Homo sapiens: one gene and its partners. The protein of the gene in region 2 interacts with the protein of the main gene of each other region in a biochemical or structural test. Each region holds a gene or a part of one and is shown on either strand. Other genes may lie near its edges.

What was found.
Region 1: the proteins of HTT (region 2) and SH3GL3 form a complex in vitro, tested with the Homo sapiens proteins (2 studies listed by BioGRID and IntAct, with this or other methods).
Region 3: the proteins of HTT (region 2) and PFN2 form a complex in vitro, tested with the Homo sapiens proteins (one study listed by BioGRID).

Annotation. Positions count from the first base shown.
Region 1 is NC_000015.10:83,445,212-83,448,960, forward strand, and holds the start of SH3GL3 (endophilin-A3), read left to right. Parts: upstream 1-2,129; 5' UTR 2,130-2,322; coding exon 2,323-2,367; intron 2,368-3,749. UniProt on the Homo sapiens protein: Implicated in endocytosis. May recruit other proteins to membranes with high curvature.
Region 2 is NC_000004.12:3,126,585-3,130,333, reverse strand, and holds part of HTT (huntingtin), read right to left. Parts: intron 3,071-3,749; coding exon 2,730-3,070; intron 411-2,729; coding exon 287-410; intron 30-286; coding exon 1-29.
Region 3 is NC_000003.12:149,968,943-149,972,691, reverse strand, and holds the start of PFN2 (profilin-2), read left to right. Parts: upstream 1-1,796; 5' UTR 1,797-1,835; coding exon 1,836-1,967; intron 1,968-3,749. UniProt on the Homo sapiens protein: Binds to actin and affects the structure of the cytoskeleton. At high concentrations, profilin prevents the polymerization of actin, whereas it enhances it at low concentrations. By binding to PIP2, it inhibits the formation of IP3 and DG.

The DNA of each region.
Region 1 (3,749 bases), on a different chromosome or scaffold from region 2:
TGGATCTCAGTGCTCAGATTCCTAATTCCTGCTCATCCCCTCCACCTTGTTCCCTACACCCCTCCTGTGAATCTCCAGGCTGCCTGACATCCTTCTCCAATACATATTTTCCAGCTTATGTTAGCTAGAGTCAGTTTCTATTGTTAAAACCCTCAAACTCTCACTAGTCTTCTGAACAAAAGTGAAGGAAGGAATGTGTAAGAATAATGAAAGAAAAATCAATGAGAGAGAAAAATCTGTAGCAATGATGAGTACCTTCAAAAATATTTTGAAAGACCAATAAAATCAGCAAACCTCCAATAAATCTATTCACTGAAAAAATTAAGACAAATCACAAAAACTTTTACAAAGGAGAAAATGTATATGAAAGATTCTGAAGTTTAAAAAGTATGATCTTCAACTCTATACTTGATTAATGAAGGAGATAAATTACCAAAATCAACTGAAGTGAGAAACTTGAATGTACTAACGACTGTGGAGGAAATGCCAATAAACTGTTTGAAAAAAAAGCACCCCCCTCCTCCCAAAGGGCACAGAGCCGGATTGGTCTAGGGGGAGGTACCATAGAACCGGTGCTATTTAAACCTCTCTGGAGCATGGAGAAAGAGGAAGCTGAGCAGCCCTGAATAGCCTAGGACAAGAGAGACCTGCCAATCCTGGACTCCAGCTGCAGCTGGCTCTCTGCCTTATGTAGTGGTTGGCCTGCGGTGAAGCCCACTGTTGAGAGGCATTTGAACTGTTGTATGGACAGGTCATCTTGCTACGCCATTCTGACCCAGCTGTCACCACCCTCACACTTTTTAGTTATCTATCAGTGGCTGGTGTCAGGCAGGTAAGCCCACAACACTCACCCAAGTCATGCTCATTAACCCTCTGACTGGCTGCCCTTATCCCACGATCTCCACTAAGTTCAAGCATTTTTTCCCCAGTATCAGAGGAGGAACACTGTTTATTCCAGTCTACATGCTTCAAGTAGAAGTGAGGAAACCAAGGCCCAGAGAGGTGTGTACTTACTTGCCCAGTCCTCACTAGGATGAAGTCAGGGTTAGGACTAGCCCCGACTGGGCGCTGGGAGCTAACAGCTAGGGGAGGAACTGCATGACTTTTGTCCTGGAGAAATGTTATGGCAGGTGGACACCAGGGCACAGGCATATACCCGAAGTGTCCAGGGCAGACAGGGACTGCTCGTCACCCCAGATGGGACCTGCTAAGGGCCCAAAAAGAGACTGAAGGTGGGAAATGTTTTTGTTTTTCAGTGTGAAGCGTTGCCAAACATATATTCTAGGTTTGGGAATCCTCGGGACCTTTGGAAGCCAGATTCAGCGAAGATGCTGTACCTTTTGGGGATAGCTCTAACACGAGGTTAACGCAATGCTCCATGTCCCTGGCTGGGCTTAGCTGTGAGTGCGTCGACCTCTGGACTCTGTGCAAATGGACACTCTGTAACTGACACAGCTGGTAGGGGTTACCGAGAGAGCTGGGTTCCTGGTCTGGTGGACTCCGCCGGATATGCAACGAGCTCTTTATGGCACCTTGGAGATGGTTGCTTTTAGTGCCGTTGACAGCGGGCTCAGAGCACCAAGTGAGCTAGCACCGTATTTATTAGTAAATTACTCCATAACTCTAGGGCTCCCAGAAGACCAAAATCATTTGAGCAGATTGCACCCAGAGCACCGCGTGGAGAGAGAAGAAAGCCCGCCACCCACAGACCGCTTCCTCCTACCACAGGTCCCCCATCGAGTTGCATTTGTTGTCCCTCCCTAGGCGCATTTCTGAGCCTTCCTTTCTTAAACATACACCGAGCGAAAATGCGCCGGAGGGAGGCGATGTTGCCTGTGAGCCAAAGCCGGTTCGGCACCAAGACAGAAGCAGAGAGAACTGATCTCTCTCCCGGTACCCATGACAATCTCAGAGCTAGATCTATATCGTCCCGCGCCCAGCAAGAAGCACTGTGTGACTGTACTCCCCCGACCCCCAGGACATCCCCACGCCCAGCTTCCCAGGCCGGTCTTCTGCGCGGCTCAAGTAGCCCAGGTCTCCACGCAACAATGAAGCGTGGGCGGCCCCAGCAGCTTCATTTGCATATCGCCGCGGCTTGGCCAATGGGCTGCGCAGGGGCTTTGGAACGCAGTGTTGCCATCGGCGTGCGCGCGTGTGTGCGAGTGTGACAGCGGCTGTGGCTGTGGCCGTGGCCGTGGGAGGCGGGCCCGGCGGAGCCCAGCCGCGGGGGGACCGGCCCGGGCTCCCGCTCCCCGAGCGCGTCGCGGCCGCGTGGCCCAGCCGAGCCTTGAGACCACCCCGCCCCTGCCGGTCGCAGTCGCGATGTCGGTGGCCGGGCTGAAGAAGCAGTTCCACAAAGCCAGCCAGGTAGGGAGGCGCAGAGGAGGGAAGGAGGGAGGGGGACGCGGAGGCTGCGGCCCCCCGAGGCTCCCGGGCCTTTGGGACTCCTGTTCCCTGAAGGGCCTCTCTCGGGGCTCAATTTCTTCCCGCCTAGGAGGGCGCGAGGGTGGGGTGAGGGGCCGCCTGCTCTCTCCTCGGCGTCTTGGCGCCTTCTCCTTCCCATTCCCTGGCCCCCGGCTCTGCCCTGGGCCGTTGTAAATCGGAGAGATTCTGCGGAGCGGAGGGCAGAGGTGGCGGCCGCGGGGACTCGGGAGGCGGAGACGGAGTGGGCGTGGGGGGGCCCCTACCCGCGCGAGGGGAGGACGACCACAGGGAGTACGATGCCGGCAGGGCCTCCCCCGAGTCTCCAGCCGTTTGGTTGGGAGAGCCTCGTGGGGGGCCCATCCTCCACCGGCCACCGGCGCCTCCAGAGATGCTGTGTATTTGGCGCTTGGCTGTGTCCCGCTGAGCTCCCCGCGCGCGCATCGAAATGGCCCCGTCTGGACTGTGCCCGGCTCCCCGGCTGGGGCTCTCTACCGCGGTCCTTCCCCTCCCCACCGTCTTCCCGGTGTCGGCCCGGGGCTGGGCATCACGCTTCTGCTCTTACAGAGCTGACAGCCTGCAGGGGAGACACGGAGACAGACACGTAAACAAACAGTGCTAGACACACCTCCACGCACAGAGGATGACAAATAACACAGTGGGGGCGTCAGGGAGAGCTTCCCGGAGGAGGAGACATGTCATTTGAGAATTAAGTATGAGGAAGAATTATGGCTGAGGGTGTGGGATGATAGGAGGAAAGCCGTTCTGAGCAGAGGAAACAGGAAAACAGGAGGGGAGACATGAAATTGATGTGTGTGTGTGTGTGTGTGTGTGTGTGTGTGTGTGTGTTGATGACAAGCAAATTTGTTTTTCAACATCAACATTGCAGGCTCTTCCAGCTATGGCAGAGCTCACGTTGTAAAACCTGTTCCCCACCAGCACCGCTGGGTCTGTTGCTTCTCACCACCTCTCCCCGCAACCCCAGCCCCCATTTTGCTAGAGCCAGGGTAGACAGATTTCATTCAACGTCCACATTTGTGGTGAGGTCTCATCCTGCTTCTCCCACAAATTGGCCCATAGAAAGCAACTGCAATTAGAAGATTCTCTTCTTCTAGCCCCAGTTCCAGGCTGAAAGGCACTGCTGTCCCCTCACTCACACTCTTTCCATATGGAAACTGGGTGATGCTGTTTCTAGCTGGGGGCACTGGGTGGACAGTGGTGCTATTCAAGGTGTTAAGGAGCCCTGGAGGAGAGGCTATTCAGGTGAGGGTGGAGATGATGGATTCACCACTGAACCCAGGGACTTTGAGGGGTCTTTGGGACATTCA
Region 2 (3,749 bases):
GTTTTTCAATAAATGTGCCTGTTGAAGGGCTTTAAAAACAGAGAAATCAAGATTAAGTGACAAATTTCCACTTAAAATACAATTATACATTTATGCTAAGATAACTCAAAAGTATAAGATTTAGATCAAGAAAAAGTATGATTATTCCTCAATTGGTCATTTTCATCAGCTATTCAGAACTCAGAAAACAGTATCAAAGGACTTCTTCTTGGAAGCAAAGATATAATTAAGATGTCCAGGTCTGAATACAAACCACTTTGTAGCGCATCACCTGTAGTCCACATACCCATGGAAGAGTTCCTGAAGGCCTCCGAGGCTTCATCAGGAAGAATACCTGTGGCTTCCTCATCTTCATCCTGGGGCTGTCCAATCTGCAGGCCCAAATACTGGTTGTCGGTACCGTCTAACACCTAAACGGTTCAAGGGGGGCTGTGAGAATTTTGAAGTGTGATCACCAAGAGACAAGCCCTCCAACATGGAAGTGCAATGAGGAAAGAGCACATTTTACACACAGAACACAAATGTACTCATCTGTCATTTATTTCAAGGCACAGAAATGCACGCATGGAAACTGCTAAGAGCTTACTGATCACTCATTCCCACTACATTATGAAAAGCTCTATTAGCTCTAAAAACTCCAAAAAAATTCCAATGTGGACATTTCTTTTTAATATGAAAAAGAAAAAACCCATACAAAAATATTTGTCTTCACAAACAAATTTTACAGCAAGTTGGAAATATGAGGACAAAGCTTTTCGACAAAAACCTAACAATATAACAGGTTATCTCCTAAATTGCAAAGACTAAATCTACTAAATTTAGGGTATGGTATTTCATATGTTTAGCCATCAGCTTGGGGCATGATTCCACATCACAAGATGTTTCATGTCCACTTGAAATGTCCTGTGTAATTTACCTAAAAAAACTGAACAATGGACTACCAGCAAATTATTACCAAAATACTATTTTATTAAGTTTGTTAACTACTATACTATTAAGTAAAACACTCAATGATATGAATGTTTTAAATTAAAATTGGAATGTAAAAGCAACTCCATTTCTGGGTATTTAGCCAAAAAAATGGAAAGCAGAGTCTCCAGGAGCTATCTGTACACCCACGTTCATAACAGCATGATTCACAATGGCTAAAACATGAAGCAATACAAGTGTCCATGGACAGAGGAATGGAAAAGCAAAATGTGGCCTATCCATACAATGGAATAGTATTTGGCCTGAAACATTAGGAAGTTCTAACATAGGCTACAACATGCATGAGCTTTGGGGACATTATGCTAAGTAAAACAAATACTGTGTGACTCCTAAAGTATATGAGAACCCAAAGTAGTCAAATTCAGAAGACAGAAAGAAGAATCGTGGTTGCCAGGGACTTGGCGGGAAAGGAGGAATAGAGTTCAATGGGAACAGAGCTTCAGTGTTACATGATCAAAAGGTTACAGAGATGGGTGGTAGCAATGATTCCATGACATTATTTAAATGTATTTAATACCAGCGAACTGTATACGCAAAAAATGGTTAAGAACATAAATTTTATGTTACACATATTTAACCACAGTTTTTAAAACTGAAAATAAAATGGAGTATAAAACTCAACATGGACTTGTAGCAAACATTATTAGACTATCCATGAGGGTTTTTTGTCCACTAACTTAGAGATGAGAAGTGCTTAAACCTATGCCGCTATCAAATGGGAAATGTTGTAAAAGTTTTTTGAAAAGTCAAAAGTTCTTAAAATAATGCACAGTATTAATCACATTTCATTAAGACCACAGATCTGTTTATAATAGGCTCCTTAAGGATTTTTAAAAATAATTATTTAACCAGGGCCCAACAAGGCCTTAAAAAATGTAAAATGCACTCAATTTTAGCAGAGTTCATATAATCAACTATTCCAATTTTTTACCTCAGTGTTCAACACAAAAGACACTAAGTTGTTTCCTTCAGTGAAGGTATCAGATGAGGTCAAGCTCTCCATTAATGATCTAAGCTGCGCTGTCAATAGGGGTATTAGATAACAAGAGAACAAGCAGGAGGGTTCAGGTCTAGGTCTCCAGGGAAGAACTCAAAAGATGGCAGGTGGCAGGGCCGGGCATGGTGGCTCACAACTATAATCCCAATACTTTAGGAGGCCAAGGTGGGTGGATCATCTAAGGTCAGGAGTTTGAGACCAGCCTGGCCAACATGGTGAAACCCTGTCTCTACTGAAAATACAAACATTAGCTGAGTGTGGTGGTGCCCACCTGTAATCCCACCTACTCAGGAGGCTGAGGCGGGAGAATCGCTCGAGCCTGGGAGGCAGAAGTTGCAGTGGGCTGAGAACGAGCCACTGCACTTTATTTTTTTATTTTTTTTGAAATGGAGTCTTGCTCTGTTGCCCGGGCTGGAGTGCAGTGTCACGATCTCGGCTCATTGCAACCTCTGCCTCCCAGGCTCAAGCAATTCTCCTGCCTCAGCCTCCCTAACAGCTGGGACTACAGACATGTGCCACCACGCCCAACTAATTTTTGTATTTTTAGTAGAGACAGGGTTTCACCATGTTGGCCAGGCTGGTCTCGAACTCCTGACCTCAAGTGATCCGCCTGCCTCAGTCTCCCAAAGTGCTGGGATTACAGGCATGAGCCCCTGTGCCCGGCCTCCACTGCACTATGGAGTGAGACTCTGTCTCAAATAAAAAATAAAAAAAAAGATGTCAGGCCCCTCTGCCCACTTACAATTTCAGAACTGTCTGAAGGGGTAACAGCTGAATCAGGCCCTTCGGTGGTGGTCTGGGAGCTGTCGCTGATGGGCGACGAGGCCTGGGTCCCATCATTCAGGTCCATGGCAGGGTCAGATGGGACGGCGCTGACCTGGCTGGAGCTGTGGCTCAAGATATCCTCCTCATCCCCATCAGTGGCAGAGCTTGTCAAGTCACAGCTGGCCAGATCCACTGAGTCCGCCTGCAGTGTGTGCTGTGACCGTGGCTGTTCTGTGATGATGTCATGACCTGCTGACCCTGGAGTGGAAACCCCTGAAGAAGCAGCCAGCTCTCCACTGATCTCATCCTTCACTGAGGCTGAAGACAGAGAAACACTCATTTGTCAAATGGCGAGAGAAAACATTCAATAGGGAATCACAGGCTTGCAAAATAACGAACAGTTCCACCGTTATCAAATGTTTCAGCTGCACAGCATCCTGAAGATGCTGAAATGCAGGACAGCAGTGCATCCTTCAAGCATCTCTCACACTGCCTCCCACTACAGTACCCACCTTATAAAATAAGGCTTATCAGAAGGTGATATTCTCAAATGCTGTTTCACTGCAAAAACCGAAGTTCAAGTTCTTAACCGACTACTCCAAGCCTTAGCTGGAGCAATATATAAAGACATTTGTAATTAAGGGGCAGCCTAGTCAGGGGCGCAAAGCTAGGCGGTCACAGACACGCAGGCCCTCTAAGCAAGCAGTGGTCAGAAACAACTGTCAACTCATCTCTCTGGGGTGGGCTTGCCTTCTTCCAAGCCACATTCAAGATCTCGACTCCAGTCCTATTCTCCTGGAAGATAAACCTGTAACACATTTTCCTAGTTGACTTTCTAAATTACCATTTAAAAACAAAAAAGGCTATATAAAAATTATGGCAAAAAGGTCGACATGAAGCTGTTGGCAGTGGTCACTCCTGGGGCAGTTGGGTCGGTAAGCATGTGAGCTTTATAGTATCCGGATTGCTGTGATGTTTTATTGTTGTTTAATTTGTG
Region 3 (3,749 bases), on a different chromosome or scaffold from region 2:
ATACAGCTTGATGAATTCTCACATAGTGAGCCTGTGTTACAAGTAATCTATTATTAACTTTTAAGATGATACAGTGCTATGATCGAAGGACTAAAATGATCAACATCACCATAAAAGGCAGAGTCATAAACAAGAACAATTAAGTGTAATTAAATCAGGTGGGAGGCACACTTACAAAAATGAAACAATTTTTGGTTCACATTTTACACCACACAGGTATTCTGTATCTTTAGAACATGAGAAAATACATATTCTCAGTCTGATAGGTCTCTGACTTGGGGGTTTCTTTTACTGTACTTTTTTTCTCTCTAGTAGCTGAACATTTTAAAGCAATCAGCAGAAAAAATATAAAACTTCAGAACCAATTAGACTTTTAAAAGCAACGTTCTTGCCCTTTCCAGAGATACATTCCTTAATCCTCCTACAAATCATGACCTCACACGATAACTTTAAGGGTGAACATCAACTTATCTACATTTTGGTGCTTTCTTTCCCTTAAGTGGCAGATGGTTTCTATTAACCTAAAATTGAAGTCATTGTTGGGGGACCCCTAATTCCATGTCTAGTCCTAGTGCCCAGAGGCTACCAAAGACGATACGAATAGCTTCTCAGGCACTCTACCCACCGTTTACCTTGTTAATACAAATCTTTCCCAGACCTGGGTCCCGAAATTATTTTACCCTGCAGAGCAGAAATGTTACGGTGTTCATTCAGTGAACTCTTCCCTAGTTTTTAATCTTTGTATTTTCTGCGTATACTTCAAGCCACCAGTAACTTTCCCAGTTACCAAGAAACAGTGTAACACAGGTCGCTATTTGTTTTGTTCGGAATTTACGAGCAATTTAACCACACGTGATTAGCAACATTAAGGGGGCTCCTCCAGGCAAAGAATCCACAGAATGAGAGGCCCTTGGTACCCAAATGAAGCAACAATGAAAGATCGGCGAAGCTCAGCAAGGTTCCTGAGCGCCACGGACGCCTGCTCTGATTTCAGGTTGCCGGCGCGCGCCCGCGGGTCTGCCTTTATGGACGAGGCGCAAGAGGGATCCAGGAAAGACGGTGCCCTTAGAGACTCGGAGATTAGCGTGGGCAACCCTGCCACCAGCTGCCCCTGCCACCAGCCGCCCCCACAACAAAAAGGAGGAAACGCTCCGCATCCCGTCACCAGGACAACTCTGTAACCCGACACCGAGGCTCAAGATTCCGCATCCCGGGCAGCGAACACAGGAGAAAAGCACATCGCGGCCCGGCCGCGGGGCTCCAAGGCGTCCGTGCCGCCGCTGTTCCTGGGGTGCCGAGAGCGACGCGGGGTCCACCCTCTCCGCCGGCCCGAGGTCCGAAGCTCGGCCCGCCACCGCTCCCGGCCGGCGCCTCCCGCACGTGGCGGCCGTGATTGTCCCGGGGCGGTATCCCTCCGCGCCCCCGCCTCAGTCTCCCCCCGCCCTTCCCGGGACCCTCCGTGCCCGGGCGCCGCGGAAGGATCGCACGCACGCGCGCGCGCACGCCCAGCCGTGTCCGCGGAAAACGGAGGGCGCTGCGGTAAGGAGCAGCCGCCACAGGCACAGCCGCTTCGCAGCCTCCCGCCGCTGGTTTGTCAGCCCCGCGGCTGCGGGCGGCCGGGCGGCCGAGCGCGCTCTGAGGTTCGTCCCTCATCGCTGAACCCGCGTCCTCCCGCCGCAGCTCCTCGGGGAGGGGGGCGGTCGGTGCCTGCGCAGAGCCGCCTCCTCCCCGCCCCCGCCCCGCCTCCCCCCGCGCCGCCGCCGCCCGCTACCGCCGCCGCCGCCGCTGCGCCTGCTGCTCCTCGCCGTCCGCGCTGCAGTGCGAAGGGCTCGAAGATGGCCGGTTGGCAGAGCTACGTGGATAACCTGATGTGCGATGGCTGCTGCCAGGAGGCCGCCATTGTCGGCTACTGCGACGCCAAATACGTCTGGGCAGCCACGGCCGGGGGCGTCTTTCAGAGCATTACGGTGAGGACCAGTGGCGGCCGGTACCCTGGTCCCTGCACCGGAGCGGGGTGGCCGGCCGCGGGGGCACCGCAGCGCGGGGCTGGAACACTGAGGGCCGAGCCCGCAGGTGTGCTAGGCAGCGGGCGCCGAGGATGCGGCTGCCGGGCGGGCGGGGAGGCCGAGGCCCGGGGACGCCCCCTCACCCGGGGCTGCGCTGACAGGCTGGGGGCGGCGGCCGGACTCCTTGCTGGCCCTGGCCGGGCGCCCCCGGCGTTCCCAGCGTCGGTCCAGGTGCCCGGGTTGGGGGAGGGGGCACGCACCGGCCAGGGCAAGGGGAGGGGTTCCTTTTTTCCTCCTAGTGCGGTTCCCCTAGGTTCTCTTGAAGCCCTGAGGTTTGCTATGCACGTTCTGGGGTGGAAGCGGGGGTCGGGGATCCGGGCTGGGGCGCGCGGGCCCCGGGTGGAGGTCCCTAGGCTCTCTGGCCGGCTCTTGCTCCGCGGACAGCGCGCCTCCCGCGCCTCCGGCTGTGGGAGGCGGCGGCCCCGGCCCGGCCCCCGGGATTCTCGAAGCGACTTTGCGTAGGTTTACCGATGTCCAGGCCTCTGGGGCTTGCGAGAGATGTACGCCGACCGCGTAGGTGGATTCGTGAATCTCGACTTCAGCTCTAGCTCTATAGGTTGTTTTTTTTTTTTTTTTAAATTCTCCAAGATGGCGAACTGCCATTGATTTCTCTTCTCATATGGAGATTCATCGATATACGGTTATCCCCAGTTATGCAACATAGCTCAAAAAAGGGGTGCTTTTCGGGGGCTTTCAATTATCTGCGAAGACCAGGAGCACACTTCACTTCTCTAAGTCCCTCCCTCTTTAGTGGTGGCAGTAAAGGAACTAATGCAGTTTTATGCTTCACATTGCCTGATTTTCTTGAGACTTGATGGTTTTGAGTTGGTTGCAATATGTTTGGAGAATATTTGCCACAAAACCTCCAGCTTATTGTTTTGCCTGTTTCTGCCCAAGGCTGTTTCTAAAATTATGATAATTGTACTAAATACGAGACCATTCTCTTTATTTCTTAGCACCACGCTCCCTTTCCATTAAGCACCAAAATTCAGGTCCCCTATTAAGGGTGCTAATTATTCTTTTACCACTTAACATGGTTTAAAGTCTAACTTTAGAACTCAGTCCTTGATAGTAGTACTTTAAGGTCTCGTATACCCGCAGTGGACTACAATTCTTGTAGGGAATTGGCATCTGGTCATCAACTTTTTTCCTGCAGTCCTCTTGTCTTTGTGTGTGAGTTCCCGCTGTCTGACTAGGAAGATTGCGGGAGTGTGCTTGGAAATGGCTGGGGCCTGCTATGACTCTGCAGTTCTGATGGGGGCGACGCCTTCCTTCTTATTCATGGAATGTTAGAATGCACGTTTTCTCCTTTCCGGTTCTGGTGGCTACCTCAGTTTCTTTCCCAATCTCCCTCCATTTTTTCTGTTTTACTATTGCCTACCGCAGTGCTGTAGACAGAATCCACTTTGCGTTTGCCCAGAAAGAAAACTGATTACTGAGATGGGAGGGGAAGGGAAGTTGGAAAGAAACGGGAGTCGTGGCTAGAAAAATAGGAGGGAAATATGAATTTGGAAAAGCACTGATGTCCAGGGGTTGAAGTCCATCTCATCACGTATATTTCTAGTTACTCTAAGCAGAGAAGTGAACACATCAAAGAACAGGCTTTATTTTGGGAGACTTTGAAGCAACTTTAAATTTGATGAAACATGATTTACTGTAATGGGACTGAATATGATAGACCAG